2 separate regions of the Homo sapiens genome follow, and region 2 is linked to region 1. Evidence: fine-mapped expression QTL. Tissue or cell type: whole blood. Region 1 holds a variant in brackets; the other region holds the start of a gene. All regions are shown on one strand. Distances are from middle to middle.

Region 1 (8,180 bases):
TGGCAGTGCTGGAAGGAGCAAGAAACAGGAAGAAAAAGAGGTGAGTCTCAGGCTGAGGGCCGGGGACTGGAGGGAGACACCAGCTTTCTCTGTGCCGCCCCATTCAGGCCCAGAACTTCACACAGTGTGAGATTTTTTAATTTGAACTTGGTCTTCGAAGCCATACAAAGGGCAATCTCTCAAGGTGGGGGGATAGAACATATTTCAAGTTTGTTAGATTGATTTATTCCTTTTAAATATCTGGATCTCTGGTATGTGAGCCTCCATCTGTCATCTCAATTTAGCCATGAAATTTTAGGGATGATCCTGTTTTAGGGATGAAATGTTTTTGGAGGTGGGTTTTGAGGACTGGGAAGGATTTAGATGGGTCAGAATGGCAGGAGATAACAGGACAAAAGGCTTGGACATGGGCATCTGCAGACACCGGCAGGCAGAGTAGGGGAAGAAAGCCATTGTGGCTGCATACCTTCTATTTGCCAGCTTTTGGGGATGGCATGGGGTACGTAGCCTTCTCAGCCTGGGCTCCACCTCCCAGGCATCGCCTCTGCCCGTGACGCCTGTCACTGTGCTCCAGACGTCCCAGGCCATTTGGTTCCCATGCACGCCCCGCCTTCTCGAACCTCCTGCTTGCACATGTGGTCTCTGCCCTGCTCCCCCTGCCCGCCCTCCTGCATCCCCTCCCAGCCCCTCTGCCTACTCACCTCCTACCTGTCCCTGAGACCTCCCTAAGACATCACCTTCTCTGGAAGTCTCTCCTAAGGGCCCACACCAGCTTGGATCCCATAACACTGAGAGGTGACAGCGTGCTGGCAGTCCTCACAGCCCTAGCTCGCTCTTGGCGCCTCCGCTGCCTGGGCTCCCACTTTGGCGGCACTTGAGGAGCCCTTCAGCCCACCGCTGCACTGTGGGAGCCCCTTTCTGGGCTGGCCAAAGCCGGAGCCCGCTCCCGCAGCTTGCAGGGAGGTGTGGAGGGAGAGGCGCGAGCGGGAACCCGGGCTGCGGGCGGCGCTTGCGGGCCAGCTGGAGTTCCAAGTGGGCGTGGGCTTGGCGGGCCCTGCACTGGGGGCAGCCGGCCCTGCCGGCCCGGGCAATGAGGGGCTTAGCACCCGGGCCAGCGGCTGCGGAGGGTGTACTGGGTCCCCCAGAAGTGCCAGCCCACCAGCGCTGCAGCTCGATTTCTCGCCGGGCCTTAGCTGCCTTCCTGCGGGGCAGGGCTTGGGGACCTGCAGCCCGCCATGCCTGAGCCTCCCACCCCCTCCATGGGCCTCTGTGCGGCCCGAGCCTCCCCGATGAGCGCCACCCCTGCTCCACGGCGCCAGTCCCATGACCACCCAAGGGCTGAGGAGTGCGGGCGCACGGCGCGGGAATGGCAGGCAGCTCCACCTGCAGCCCCAGTGGGGGATCCACTGGGTGAAGCCAGCTGGGCTCCTGAGTCTGGTGGGGACGTGGAGAACCTTTATGTCTAGCTAAGGGATTGTAAATACACCAATCGGCACTCTGTATCTAGCTCAAGGTTTGTAAACACCAATCAGCACCCTGTGTCTAGCTCAGGGTTTGTGACTGCACCAATCGACACTCTGCATCTAGCTACTCTGGTGGGGACTTGGAGAACCTTTGTGTGGACACTGTATCTAGCTAATCTGGTGGGGACGTGGAGAACCTTTGTGTCTAGCTGAGGGATGGTAAACGCACCAATCAGTGCCCTGTCAAAACAGACCACTGGGCTCTACCAATCAGCAGGATGTGGGTGGGGCCAGATAAGAGAATAAAAGCAGGCTGCCCGAGCCAGCAGTGGCAACCGTCTCGGGTCCGCTTCCACACTGTGGAAGCTTTGTTGTTTCGCTCTTTGCAATAAATCCTGCTGCTGCTCACTCTTTGGGTCCACACTGCCTTTATGAGCTGTGACACTCATGGCGAAGGTCTGCAGCTTCACTCCTGAAGCCAGCGAGACCACGAGCCCACCAGGAGGAACGAACAACTCCAGACGCACCGCCTTTAGAGCTGTAACACTCACTGCGAAGGTCTGCAGCTTCACTCCTGAGCCAGCGAGAGCACCAACCCAACAGAAAGAAGAAACTCCAAACACATCCGAACATCAGAAGGAAAAAACTCCAGACGCGCCACCTTAAGAGCTGTAACACTCACCGCGAGGGTCCACGGCTTCATTCTTGAAGTCAGTGACACCAAGAACCCACCAATTGCGGACACACCACCACCCATAATGCCACCTTGAAACCACTTTGTCTCCGTCAGGCCCTAAGCTTCTTGGACAAGCGGAGAGAAGTTCAATGTGGGAACAGCAGGGAGGGCCAAACAGTTTTGTTTCATTTTGGTTTACTTTTAACCCTTATTACAATCCTTATAACTAGTAAGTAGAAAAAGAATAAGAAAATGGTTAACAGCAGTGGTTTGACATAATAGGAAAAGCACTGTGCTTTAAAAAAAAAAAAAATTTCGGCCGGCCATGGTGGCTCACACCTGTAATCCCAGCAATTTGGGAGGCCGAGGTGGGCAGATCATGAGGTCAGGAATTCGAGACCAGCCTGACTAACATGGCAAAACCCTGTTTTTACTAAAAATACAAAAATTAGCCAGGCATGCTGGCACATACCTGTAATCTCAGCTACTCAGTAGGCTGAGGCAGGAGAATCACTTGAACCCAGGAGGCAGAGGTTGCAGTGAGCCAAGGTCACGCCACTGCACTCCAGCCTGGGCAACAGAGTGAGACTCTGTCTCAAAAAAATAAATAAATAGGCTGGGCACGGTGGTTCACGCCCATAATCCCAGCACTTTGGGAGGCCAAGGCAGGCGGATCACGAGGTCAGGAGTTTGAGACCAGCCTGGTCAATATGGTGAAACCCCATCTCTACTTTAAAAATATACAAAAATTAGCTGGGCATGGTGGCACGCGCCTGTAGTCCCAGCTACTCAGGAGGCTGAGGCAGGAGAATCACTTGAACCCAGAAGGCAGAGGTTGTAGTAAGCCAAGATCATGCCACTGCACTCCAGCCTGGGCGACAGAGTGAGACTCTGTCTCTAAAAAATAAAAAATAAAAAATAAATAAAATAAATAGGCCAGGCGCGGTGGCTCACGCCTGTAATCCCAGCACTTTGGGAGGCCGAGGTGGGTGGATCACGAGGTCAGGAGTACAAGACCAGCCTGGGCAAGATGGTGAAACCCTGTCTCTACTAAAAATACAAAAAAATTAGCCAGGCGTGGTGACCAGTGCCTGTTATCCCAGCTATTTTGGAGGCTGGGGCAGAGAATTGCTTGAACCCGGTAGGCGGAGGTTGCAGTGAGCCGAGTTTGTGCCACTGCACTCCAGCCTGGGCAACAGAGCAAGACTCCATCTCAAAAAAATAAATAAAATAAAATAAATAAATAAATTTCGGCCAGGCGCAGTGGCTCATGCCTATAATCCCAGCACTTTGGGAGGCCGAGGTGTGCAGATCATGAGGTCAGGAGTTTGAGACCAGCCTGGCCAACATGATGAAACACTGACTCTACTAAAACTACAAAAAATTAGCCAGGCGTGGTGGTGTGTGCCT[G/A]TAATCTCAGCTACCTGGGAGGCTGGAGCAGGACAATCACTTGAACCCAGGAGGCGGAGGTTGCAGTGAACAGAGATCGTGCCATTGCACTCCAGCCTGGGCAACAGAGCAAGACTCCATCTCAAAAAAAAAAAAATGCTCAGTGCATGTGTTTGTGTGCCTGTGTGTATATGCCCACACGTGCACACACAGAGGTGGAGTGGGGGTCCTCATTTATTCACCAGAGGCTTCTTTGGTAAAAGAAGAAGGCTGCGTCATCAGGGTTTTCAAGCCTTCAGAGTTCCCGAGGGCTCCCGCAGGGACAGCTCCCCCTGTATCCCCAATGAGTGGTCTTCTCCCTTCCCCCTACAACCATAGCAGCACTCTATATTTTGTCTACAAGTTGAGATTACCTATAAAATTCCATCCTGCATTTGCAAACCTGAACGAGAAAGGCTCCAAGTCACTGGTCTGGAGCTCTTACGTCCTGTCCAGGCCCCGGTTCCTGGGTTCTGTGGTTCTGTAAGAGGAAATGGCAGCTGGGGCGTGGAGGCCTGGGTACAGCTGAGTAGGGAGCACTCGTGTGGGGCTAAATGAATGCAGTTGAAGGATCTGGATCATCTGGGACCCTACATGTCTTCCTTCTTTGCCTCCTTTCCAGGGACGCACTCTCTGAGATATTTTCGCCTGGGCGTTTCGGATCCCATCCATGGGGTCCCTGAATTTATTTCGGTTGGGTACGTGGACTCGCACCCTATCACCACATATGACAGTGTCACTCGGCAGAAGGAGCCACGGGCCCCATGGATGGCAGAGAACCTCGCGCCTGATCACTGGGAGAGGTACACTCAGCTGCTGAGGGGCTGGCAGCAGATGTTCAAGGTGGAACTGAAGCGCCTACAGAGGCACTACAATCACTCAGGTGTGCATGCGGCAGAGACAGACGCTTCCCCCATCCCACCCCAACCCGCAGAGACCCCTGGGCTGGCCTCCAATAAGCGGATGCTGAATTGCACCTGCTGTAGCTTTGGCAAAGCCTGAGGAATCAGGTTGGTGGAGTTCAGGGCCTCCCATCTGCCTGTGCATCTTCTGGACTGTCCCTCTCTCCCCCAGGAGCACTCTGTCATTTGCCCCACCCACTCTTCCCCATCTCTGTATCCGTATCTGCATCCCATTTCCACTCAGGCTTCTGATATGCATCTCCTTTTCCATTCTAAATTTGCCCATTCTGCGTCTCACTTCCTGGTAGTCAGGCCTAGTGACTTGCTTATGAGTATCGACAGTAACTTTCCCAGGGGTATTTCTGGCTCCTGCATCTCTCTCCCTCCTCCACTGCAGTCAGAATAGCCACAAAGTTTATCAGTCATTCCCATTACAGGATAACTCCCCAAGGCGGGAATTAGCACACTCCTTTGACAGGCAGTAGGTACTTCACAGATACCTGCTGACAGGTGGGCTTCCATAAGGGGGACCTCCTGGGGACTCAGCGATGCCATGGCAGGCCTGGGGGGTGACATAATGTAGACCAAAGGATGCTTCCAGCCATGCCCCTGCTCCCAGCACTTGAGAGCCCACCTCTGTCTCTGTGTGGACCCCTCTGGGCTTCTGTGTGTGTTCCAGGGTCTCACACTTACCAGAGAATGATTGGCTGTGAGCTGCTGGAGGATGGAAGCACCACAGGATTTCTGCAGTATGCATATGACGGGCAGGATTTCCTGATCTTCAATAAAGACACCCTCTCCTGGCTGGCTGTAGATAATGTGGCTCACACCATCAAGCAGGCATGGGAGGCCAATCAGCATGAGTTGCTGTATCAAAAGAATTGGCTGGAAGAAGAATGTATTGCCTGGCTAAAGAGATTCCTGGAGTATGGGAAAGACACCCTACAAAGAACAGGTAAAGAGAAAGAGAAGGCCTCATTCCCACATTGCCTGAACAACTGTTTTTATACGTAACTCTTTTAATCTAGGTTATATCCACTGTATCCTGAAAGCCATCTCTTTAGTTGGCCTATTGTGATCTCATGGCTAGAGCCCCCACGAAAACTTTCCCTGGTTACTTTTGAGCAGCATCTTGACAAGATTTGACAGTTCCCCTTGTCTTGACAGAGTGGAGTACCTCCAAGGGCACCTTGTTTTTAGGGATCTATTGAGGCAAATTCTTCCATTCCGTCAATGATAAGCTGGGAAATTCTTTGGGAGATAGAGCAATTCTTACAAACTGTTTAGTTAACAAAGGGCTCACACACCACCAGTAGGAGTAAAAATCTGGATTTACCAAGACAAACAGAAGGTCTCTGCTTTACTAAAGGATTAATGAGGTTGGGCATGATGGCTCATGCCTGTAATCCTAGCACTTTGGGAGGCTGAGGCAGGAGGATTGCTTAAGGCCAGGAGTTTAAGACTGGCCTGGGTAACATTGTGAGACCCTGTCTCTATTAAAAAAAAAATTAGCTGAGCATGGTGGCACATGACTGTAGTCCCAGATACTCAGGAGGCTGAGGTGGGAGGATCTCTTGAGCCTGGAAGGTCAAGGCTGCAGTGAGCCATGATCATGATCAGCCTGGGTCACAGAGCAAGACCCTATTTAAAAAAAAAAAAAAGTATTAATGATAAGATTCCTTTCAGCAAAGAGCTCCTCTTATACCTTAAAGATATGATTCAGTTGGTCAACTTTTAGTTCATATAGAACTTTTCATGTATGGTCTTGTTATTCAAAATTAATCACACCTGTATGATGCTACAGGAAACTCCTAGATACAATGTGTGTGGGAAGAGTATGGGAAGCTCCCCTCTCCAGGCCTCTGTCTACATTCAGTGTCCTAATGGATTTTCAACCTTTTGGTCAAAACACACTCCTAAAAAAACAAACAAAAAAAAAAAAGAAAAGAAAAAACACATTCCTAGAAAAGGATCTTGGATTAATTTCTTACAGGCCCTATCAAAAAGCACAGTCCCTCCTAGTAGCATTTATTTTACTTTTAATGTTGGAAAGCCTTTTTCTACTACCAAATATCATGCCTCGGTAAAGAGACAAGGAAAGCATTGTTGGAGTGAAGGCTCTTCTCCGTATTGGGTTGGCCGATGATAAGGTGGGGGTCAGGAGGCAAGTCAGAGATGAGCAGGAAGCAGTCCCCCCCAGATAGTGCCTTTGGTCTCGGTATGGCTGTTTGACCCAATTTCAGCAAGAAACATTAAGGACAGGACTGTATGGAAAATTAAGAGTAGTCATGAGGAAGCAAGGTCACACGTGGGTACTTCTTTGGTGTCACTGCTGGAGCCCTTCTATGATATCAGTTTCTTCGAAGGCACAACCATGGCATGATCTACTACATATGTTTGTACCTGATGGCAGTCATCAAAATGCCAGCGCAAGTACACAAGGCAATTCGGAGCCAAAACTGAGTGGGGATGGCTGTGTTATTTACGTGCACTAAACACAGAAATGAGAACAAGGAGTTCTAATCTCCAATCTATTGCTGACTTACTTATTGGGAACAGTCACTTACACATTTTATGGGTCAGTTTTCCTTGACACATAAAGGTATTTCAAAGGTTACTAGTAAACAACCCCAGCACACTTTCCAAACAGTCAAAGCTGTATGACTTTCCCCCCTTAGAGGATGGAGCATGGGCCAACTCCACATTCTTCACTACCTAGCACCTTGCCATCATGGAAGGTATACGTAAATACGTTTGTTGTTGATGAACCTGAGTTCTGGGTCATTCTTAGCTTTAGAAGTTTCCTGCAATAAAGAAAAATTAGGAAAGCCAGTTGCCAAGTTCTAATATTATATGCTCAGTACATAAGGCACTTTGATTTAACTTTAGCTTCTTCTTCCTAGAGCCCCCACTGGTCAGAGTAAATCGCAAAGAAACTTTTCCAGGGGTTACAGCTCTCTTCTGCAAAGCTCATGGCTTTTACCCCCCAGAAATTTACATGACATGGATGAAAAACGGGGAAGAAATTGTCCAAGAAATTGATTATGGAGACATTCTTCCCAGTGGGGATGGAACCTATCAGGCGTGGGCATCAATTGAGCTTGATCCTCAGAGCAGCAACCTTTACTCCTGTCATGTGGAGCACTGCGGTGTCCACATGGTTCTTCAGGTCCCCCAGGGTAAGGACGGGGATCGTGGCTGTCTAGGGAGAGAGCCTGGAGAAAGGGGTGAGCAGGAAACCATGCTCGCTGCCAGGGAGGGGAGGATAGATCACTGCCTCACTCAGTGTGCCTTAGAATGGGTCTTTTAAATAAGTGGTTCTCACACTTTTTGGAACCAGGACGCCTTCATACTATTAAAAAATTATTGAGGACCCCAGAGAGCTTTTGCTGATGTGGGTTATATCTATTGCTATTTACTACATTACAAATTAAAAATTTAAAAATTAAACACGAATGGGTGCAGTGGCTCATGCCTGTAATCCCAGCACTTTGGGAGGCTGAGGCAGGTGGATCACTTGAGGTCAGGAGTTCGAGACCAGCCTGGCCAACATGGTGAAACCCCATCTCTACTAAAAATACAAAAATTAGCCAGGCATGGTGGCGCATGCCTGTAATCCCAGCTCCTGGAGGCTGAGGCAGGAGAATCGCTTGAACCTGGGAGGTGGAGGTTGCAGTGAGCCGAGATCGCACCACTACACTCCAGCCTGTG
Region 2 (8,180 bases), 27 kb before region 1:
AGAGGTTGCAGTGAGCTGAGATCACGCCATCGCCATTGCACTCCAGCCTGGGCGACAGAGTAAGACTCTGTCCCAAAAAAAAAAAAAAAAAAAAAAAAAAGAAAAGAAAAAGTGATAAAACCATATATAACGTATAATCCCAATTTTTAAAATGACCATATTATATATATAATATATATTTGTAATAAATATATAAATCCTGGCCCTTCTACGTACAAGCTTATAAAGTTGAAGTTTTTTACTAAGTTTCATTTTCCTTTTTGTGAAATGATGACAATAATAATACCTACTTCATAAGGATAAAAGAGCAATCCCTGTTGTGGGATTCTGTTCCGAACAGGACATTGACAATGTCAAAACCTCCCAAAAGGAGCTTCAAACTTCCAAGCACTAACCACTGCATGTATAAGTTACAACAGCTTTCTAACTGGTCTCCTTTTTCATCTTTCCTCACACTGATGCATCCAACACTACCACCAAATCAATATTCCTAAAATCCTAATTTCATGTCATTTCCTTGCTTTAAAAATCTGTAATGGCCTCAAGATGAGATTCTCCTTAGGCCAACATAACTTGACCCTATTTTACCTGCACTGGGAAGTATTGACAGTAGTGTGAAATCAGGTTGTTCTAATTTGAAGCCTGAGTACACCACTTATTAGCTGTGTGACCCTAGGCAAGTAAGTTAACCCCTCTAACACTTCCTCAGCTTCTCATCTCTAAAATGTGGCTAGTATTCATCATATGGGTGTTTTTACAGAGTGAAAATTCATATAAAGTGCTTACTTAGCACTTTACATGTATGCCTGGCACTGGAGATGCATCCTTTAAATGTGAGCTGTTACTACTTCCCTAAACTGTCTACTCCACCTGGGCTGCTCTTCCAGATCATTTCTAACACACATTGCCCAACTTAGGCCTTTGGCTGGTGGTGTTCTCACCCATGAGGCACCATTCCATCACAATCACCACCATCAACAAAGAGTATGTGTTCAACATTTACACTATATATTCAAGGTGTAGGCTGGAAATACAGAGGAAAAAAAAAAAAAAAACAGTCCCAAACCTCAGAGCTCATAGTCTAATAATGAAAGAGAGACAGAGGAAGAGGTCCAATAATTAGGGGTGACAAAGGAAGCACTTCCTGGAGGCAAGGGAGATGCTTACACTGACTCCAGAAAGCTGCGTGGGTGAATCAGGCAGTGTGGGTGCATGTAGAGTAAGAGCATCCAGTACAGCAATCACAGTCACTGTATTGAGTCTGGCACTGCTGGAGTACTAAGGCTAAGGGAGAGCAGAGGCTAGATCAGTGAGGTCAGGAAGTGTTGGCACTTTATTCTGCAGGCCAGCAGCAGCCACTGAATAATATTAAGTAGGGTACACCTGTCTAGGACTCTAGAAAAGCTTACACTGTGCTGTCCAACACGGAAGCCACATACAACTACTGACTGGAAATGTGGCTAGTGTGACAGAAATTAAATTTTAATTAATGTAAACTTGGTAACTGATAGCAATTCAGTTATCAAAAACCTTTTATGTATGTTTGGAACAATTAAAGAGTATGTAGGCCGGGCGCGGTGGCTCACGCCTGTAATCACAGCACTTTGGGAGGCCGAGACAGGTGGATCACAAGGTCAGGAGATCGAGACCATCCTGGCTAACATGGTGAAACCCCGTCTCTACTAAAAAATACAAAAAATTAGCCGGGCGTGGTGGCGGGTGCCCTGCCCATAGTCCTAAAAATACAAAAATTAGCCAGGTGAGGTGGTACACACCTATAGTCCCAGCTACTCAGGAGGCTGAGGTGCAAGAATCGCTTGAACCTGGGAGGCAGAGGTTGCAGTGAGCCGTGATTGCACCACTGCACTCCAGTCTGGGCAACAGAACAAGACTCTGTCTCAAAAAAAAAAAATGTATTTAATGAACTTTAAATACAGATCAATTATTTCTGATGAAAATTTAATGTCCAAATTTAAATGTGCAGTAAGTGTAAAATATGTATCAGATTTAGAAGACTTAGTACAAAAGTAAAATATCTCATCAATAATCTTTAATCACATGTTGAATATTTTGAATGTATTAGAGATTACATTAGAATTAATTTCACCTGTTCCTTTATATTTTACTGCGGCTACTAGAAAATGTAAAATGACATACATGGCTGGCATTATACTTCTATTGGACAGCAATGATCCAATAGATCCCAGGACAGCTGAAAGAGGAAATGAGACCAGAAGCAGGAAGAACAATTAAAAAGACTCTGATAAGCATCCAGGTAAGAGAGACAGGCCTGATTATCTAAATTCTGCCCATCTTCAAAACCTAATTCAAGATACACTACTGCCTCCAAAAGCTCTCCTAATCCTAACAATTCCCAAGGAGTTACCTTTCTCTGAACTCCTGAGGCACTTATCTGTAGCATTCACTTCAACACTCATTCATTTGCCACCTGTCATTTCTATTTAATTTTGGGGTAATTTGTTTCTCAGATTAGACCAGAAGCTCCTAGGCTAAGGGCCATAATTTAGGCACCTTTAATTTTTGCATGCTGTGTAATGCATTTTTGATACTTTTAATAAACACAGGTACATGACTCCCCAAAAATCTGGATACACCTTCATGGGTGACTTTACCTTTCCACAGCAGAAGGAACTGAGAATCTCTTTTCCTTCAAGAACCTTAAAGATAGGAGCTAAAATGATGTAAAAATCAATCAAAACTCCCTCCAAGCCAATGTTCCGATAAAGTAGTGATATTTAATCAGTGAGCAAGCATTAGTAGACTGTATAGGATACCATCAAGAAAAAAAAATGCCAAGACAGAAGAATTTAGGCTTTTGACAAATTCCATAAAAAGTCAAACAAAAAATTTCTGATCATCTCTGATCTCTACCGCCAGAGATAACCTTTGCCAACCTAAGCATTAAGAACTTTCAATCAAGGAAAAAACATCTATTTTAAAAATTAACCCCTAAATCAATCCTTCTAATAAATATCACATTTTCTAGGTAGGGATACACATATTACCAGTAAATTTACAACTCAGCATTTTCCCATCTAAATTAGAGTAAGGTGAAGAAAAAAAACTTTCCAGGGAAATATTAAGAAGTAGTATAAATGTATTTTACTGCATAATCGATAAAGTATTTCACCTAAAATACCATTTAAATTTTCTACAACACTTGACTATACAACGGCCAGCTTGCACCACTACAGAAATAGGAAGCTAGCAGCAACTAGTAAAAAGCAAGGGACATTCTGTGGTGATCAGTACTGACCTGGGAACTTTGCAGTTTTCAGATTTTTCATGTTTGACATTTAAAACAGAAAACTGACAAGTTTCTAATAAGAAACTAAAAGTTACATCAGAATTGATCTTCTTGCATGTGTTTAATGGCTACGAAGTGGATATTACAAAGTGCAGTTGAAGACTCTATCTCCAAAGAAACAATCGAGCAATCAAAGATGAGCTAGGATAGCTTGTAAGGGAACAGAAGGCAGTCCTTTCTATTCTGAAAGGCAGAAGAAATAGGAGAAACCTGTCAAACAACCTGGATGAAATCAAGGAGTTAACAAGCAACACTCATTTCCTTTAGCACTGTGAGAAAATTCCGGTTGCTAATAGAAAGCTGAGGAAAGTTTGGTTTGGCTTGTTTCATTTTGTTTTCCTTCCAAATCATCACTGAGTATGAACGACTGCTTTCCTCTCCTCACATTACTCAGTAAAAACTCCCCCATTGAATTGTCTTCCGGTGCCCTGCTCCCCAGCCTCCCAGAACGGCCCCCGCCCCCGCCTCCCTCCCAGCAAACGTGCTCAGACGCCTCTGGGCTTGTTGTGGTCTCGCCAGTCTGCGGACAAGCGCTCCAAACTCAATGGACAATGGAGCTCACCCCCGTCAACGCGAACTACAAAGCTCAGGAGGGCCATTTCCCTTTTCCTGCCCAGATGCTGTTTTCGCTCCTTCGAAGCAAGATCCCATGCTCGACTAGACGGCCAGTGTGCGCCAGGACCCGCGTGTCTCCTTCCCCACCTGCAGAGCTGCTGAGCCCCTCGGCCCCCAAATAAATTGTACCGCAGCACACAGGCCAAAAAGGGCCCCCCACCACCAGGGGCTTGGCTGGGGACAGTGGCTTCACGGTCCAGGTAGGGATGGAGGGAACGTCTCTTGACGCTTGGTCATGGCCCTCAAGACTAAGCCGTCTCCACTGTTCCCCCTCCCCAGCTCCAACTTGCCTCCCCTCCCCCCACTGCGAGAAGACCTAGGAGGTGCGGGCAGGCAGCACCGCCACCTCTTCCTCCGGTGGAGCGCTCGGCCGACACTCACCCTTTCACCACAAAGAAGGGGTCCTCCATGGACATGGCGTCCCGGCCCCGGCCGCCTTCACCTCCTCCGCGCACAGGGCGCCCGTGCCTCCCGGTCTCCCTCCGCCCACCCCGCCTGTTCCCGCAGCTGCCCGCGCCTTAGTCTGGGTGAAGCCGAGCAGCGGGCACGCGCACAGGCCAGGTGCACAGGACGGCCGCTGGTCCAGCACTCGCTCAGCACCACTGGCCGAATCCCGGACTCGGGCGCCGGCCCCCTCGGCAGCCTCCAGTCCCGGCTCCTCCCGAAGCGTCGGAGGGCCTGACCCCACCCCCGGGACCCTCGGCCGCGGCCAATCACGAACGCCGCCTGAAACACGACTTCCGCACCCCGCTCACGTGACCAGGGCATATATCTCTCTCTCTCTCTCTCTCTCCTCTCTCTCCTCTCTCTCCTCTCTCTCCTCTCTCTCCTCTCTCTCCTCTCTCTCCTCTCTCTCTCTCTCTCTCTCTCTCTCTCTCTCTCTCTCTCCCCCCCCCCCCAGTGGGCGGGGCTTACGCCTGCGTCCCTCGGCCCTGGAGGCGGAGCCCTCGGGGCGGTGGAGGTGGGCGGGCTTCTACAGCCCTCTCCTCAAGCTTGAGGGTGAGGAGTGGCTTGTTCCCTCAGAACTAGGCAGTCGGCTTTTCAGGATAAGCTGTAGTTGTACCTGATTTGCAAAATCCTCTTACCTTTCCTCTACTTTTAATACTTAATTTTGACAGTATGTAATTTATAAATCTATCTGGTCCTCGACTTAAAATGAAGCATAGTATCTGATTATAATGTTACACAGATCCTTTAAGTAGGTCTTGCTTTGTGTTGGACAGTGTGCTAAAGGTTGTGTATGCATCATCTCAGTATCCTTTGGGGGAAAGTATTATTCCCCCCTCCCCCTTTTTGGGGGGCAGGGTCTCTCTCTGTCACCCTGGCTGGAGTGTAGTGGCACAATCACAGCTCACTGCACCCTTGACCTCCTGGGCTCAAGCGATCCTCCGGCCTCAGCCTCCCGAGTAGCTGGGACTACAGGTGAGCGCCACCACGCCCGGCTAATTTTTAAATTTTTTATAGAGATGGGGCTCTCAGTATATTTCCTAGGCTGGCCTTGAACACCTGAGCTCACATGATCCTCCTGCCTCTGCCTCCCAAAGTGGTGGGATTATGGGCGTGAGCCACCACACCATCCATTTTTCTCATTTTGTAGATAAGAAAATAAGTTCAGAGAGGCTTGAAGACTTCCTGTAGTCACACAGCCTGGACAGGGCAGAACTGCAGATTCTGTGCACTTTCCACCAGATGGGGTGTACTTTCTGTTGCTGTACATTCTGCAAATAACCATGTAAAGTAATTTTTCATACAGCATATGGTGCTTCCCAGGAGAGCACACCTTCGAGGAATAAAGAAGGGGCCAGGTATGACAACTTCCTCTCACTGTGGTTCAAGAGCTATTCGAGAAAACATTTTGCCCAGAACCATTAACCAACTCATATGCTAGATATGCTATGAAATTTGTGGATGGGGATTGTGGACTTTGATTGCTGAAAATCATTGAGCACTTACTGTGTGTGTGTGTCAGGCAGGATGTTAAGTGTTATCTCAGTTGCTCTTACAATGTGATAATTACTGCTATCATGCCCATTTTATAAATGAGAAATCTGAGACTCGGAGGTTAAGTGACTTGCCCAAGGTCACCAGTCTGGAGCTGGCACAGTCCTTGGAGCAACACAAACCCCGTTTAAACCTTGGCTCTATCATTCAGTTCCTCATCTATAAAACATAAATAATAATAGCTAGTTCATGGGTTGTTGTGATGGTTAAATAAAAATGTGTGTAAACCTCAAGATCCCAAAGGACTAAGTTACTGAAGTCAGGAAAACCAGTAAGGACGCTGCTAAAGTCATGTGGCCTGAAGGGATGAGGTCCAGACCAGGATGACAGCGATTGAGAACAGAGAAGGAGTGAATCTGACAGATGTTTCAAAAGGAAAACAAGACTAAACACCTAGACATGATGAGGGGCTGAATGGGTTTCAGGAGGGGAGAGAAGAGAGGGGTGAAAGCCAAAATCCCTGGAGGAGCGAATGATGGAAGGCAGATGTGGGGAAAGGAAGCAGTGTCCAATACTAGTGATTGCTAATGTTTATTGGGAGAGAACTGTTTAATTTACTTAGCTGGGGAGGTGAAAACGTGTCATCGTTCATTCATTCAACAAGCACATGTAAATTGAGGGGTAGGTGAGCATGGTGTTGAAGACCATCCTTGGAGTCTGATTGCTTGAGTTCTGCTGCTTCCTGACTGTTGCATCTCAGGCAAGCCGCTTCATCTCTCACTATCCTCAACTGTGAAATAGACACCGTAATAACAGCTTCCTTATAGAGTGTCATGAGGTGATGTGTGAAAAGTGCTTAAAACAGTGCCTGACACATGTTGTGCTCCTACTGTGTGCTAAGCACTGAGACACAGGCATGAACAAGGCTTGGTTCTTGCCTTCAAGGAACTGTCAGACTGGTGGGAGAGACAGACTGGTGGGAGAGACACACAGTGAGAGAAGGGCACAGGTTGCCATAGAAACACAGCGACAAGATACCAGTATATTTGTGTGTTTTCGGGGCTGGGGCAGGGGGTTCCTAAGCAGTGACTAGAAGCAGCCAGGAGAAGGGGGCCATGTTGCTGGAGTAGAAGGAAAAGGATGGGGGCAGCAGGAGCTAAGCCTGGAGGTGGACAGGGTCAGATTATCAGGGCCCTTGTTTGTAATGTTCAGAATAGTGGACGCTTCCTATGGACAGTTCCCCATGGGGACTGAGGGAATTGACAGGGTCAGATTGGCATTTGAGACAGATGCTTCAGTGGCTAGGAGGTTATGGTCCAGAGGAGGGATGAGGGTATCCTGAGCTGGGCTTGTGACAACTAAGGTGGAGAAGAGTGATGCATTTGAGACATACTTTAGAGGCAAAGTTAGTATACTTGGTGACTGATTGGTTCAGGGTATGGGGGAATTGATGAAAGAAGAGGGAGGAAGGCTTCTGGGGTTGTAAATGGGTAGTGTTGGTTCCAACCATCAAGAAAGAGAACACAAGAGGAGGATTTGATTTAGGGTGAATGTAAATTAGCTGTTAGCATGTCATTTATCCCCACCAAACAGTAAACTCCTGGAGGGACAGGATACTATGTTAATGTTATTATCACCTAAGTGCCTGACACGGCCTCTTATTATCTGTTCCATGAATTTCTTAATTGGACCACATATGACAGGCCAGAGTTTTATAAGTAGTAATAGAAGATAGAGGACAGAGGCTTGGGTTCCCATAATTAGGGGATTAGAAAAAGCACCAACAATGGAGATAGTGGAGTGTCAAGATATAAAATGTGTGTATGTGTGTGTGTGTGTGTAGGTGTTCCTTTCTTTAATGTGTCACCCTCCTTTACCCTCTCTCAAACTAGACCTTGGCCTCCACTGCCCACAAGGAAAGGGAAGCTATGGCTAAAATGCAAGGAGAAACAAAGGAGGTTCTTTCTTTCTTTCTTTTTTTTTTTTTTCATTTAATAGGACCCACGTCCTGGCATAAACAATAGGTTGGGAAGAATACTCAGCAAAAACCCATCTCTTCCCACACCCCCACCCCTACCCCACCCCCAACCCAAAAGAATAATTTAAATTTCTCAGGGAATAAAAAATCAAAACAGTGGTTGTCTTGGGGGACAGAGTTTGACTGGGAAGGGAAACTTTCTTGGGTACTAGAAATGCTCTGTATCTTGACGGAGTGTGTGTTACATGAGAGTATCATTTGTCAGAATTCCTCAAACCGAAACTCTTAATTGGACTTAACTTCTGTTCATTTTTCTGG

What was found. PIP is the estimated chance that this variant, and not a neighbour inherited with it, causes the effect.
Region 2: STX6 starts here. The variant in region 1 is fine-mapped to the expression of STX6 in whole blood (TOPMed, PIP above 0.99).

The regions. Positions count from the first base shown.
Region 1 is chr1:181,044,863-181,053,042 of GRCh38, forward strand. MR1 (major histocompatibility complex, class I-related) reads left to right here. Exons shown (of 6, transcript NM_001385161.1): 2 at 4,190-4,450; 3 at 5,149-5,424; 4 at 7,373-7,648. Among named protein-coding and RNA genes, the nearest start is that of MR1, 15 kb to the left of the region's middle. RefSeq lists a silencer at 32-181 and an enhancer at 1,299-1,801. The variant G/A (reference allele first, on the strand shown) is at 3,550.
Region 2 is chr1:181,018,315-181,026,494 of GRCh38, forward strand. STX6 (syntaxin 6) reads right to left here and starts at 4,556. Exons shown (of 8, transcript NM_005819.6): 1 at 4,325-4,556. The coding sequence starts at 4,359. RefSeq lists an enhancer at 4,296-5,079 and silencers at 4,488-4,617, 4,738-4,837.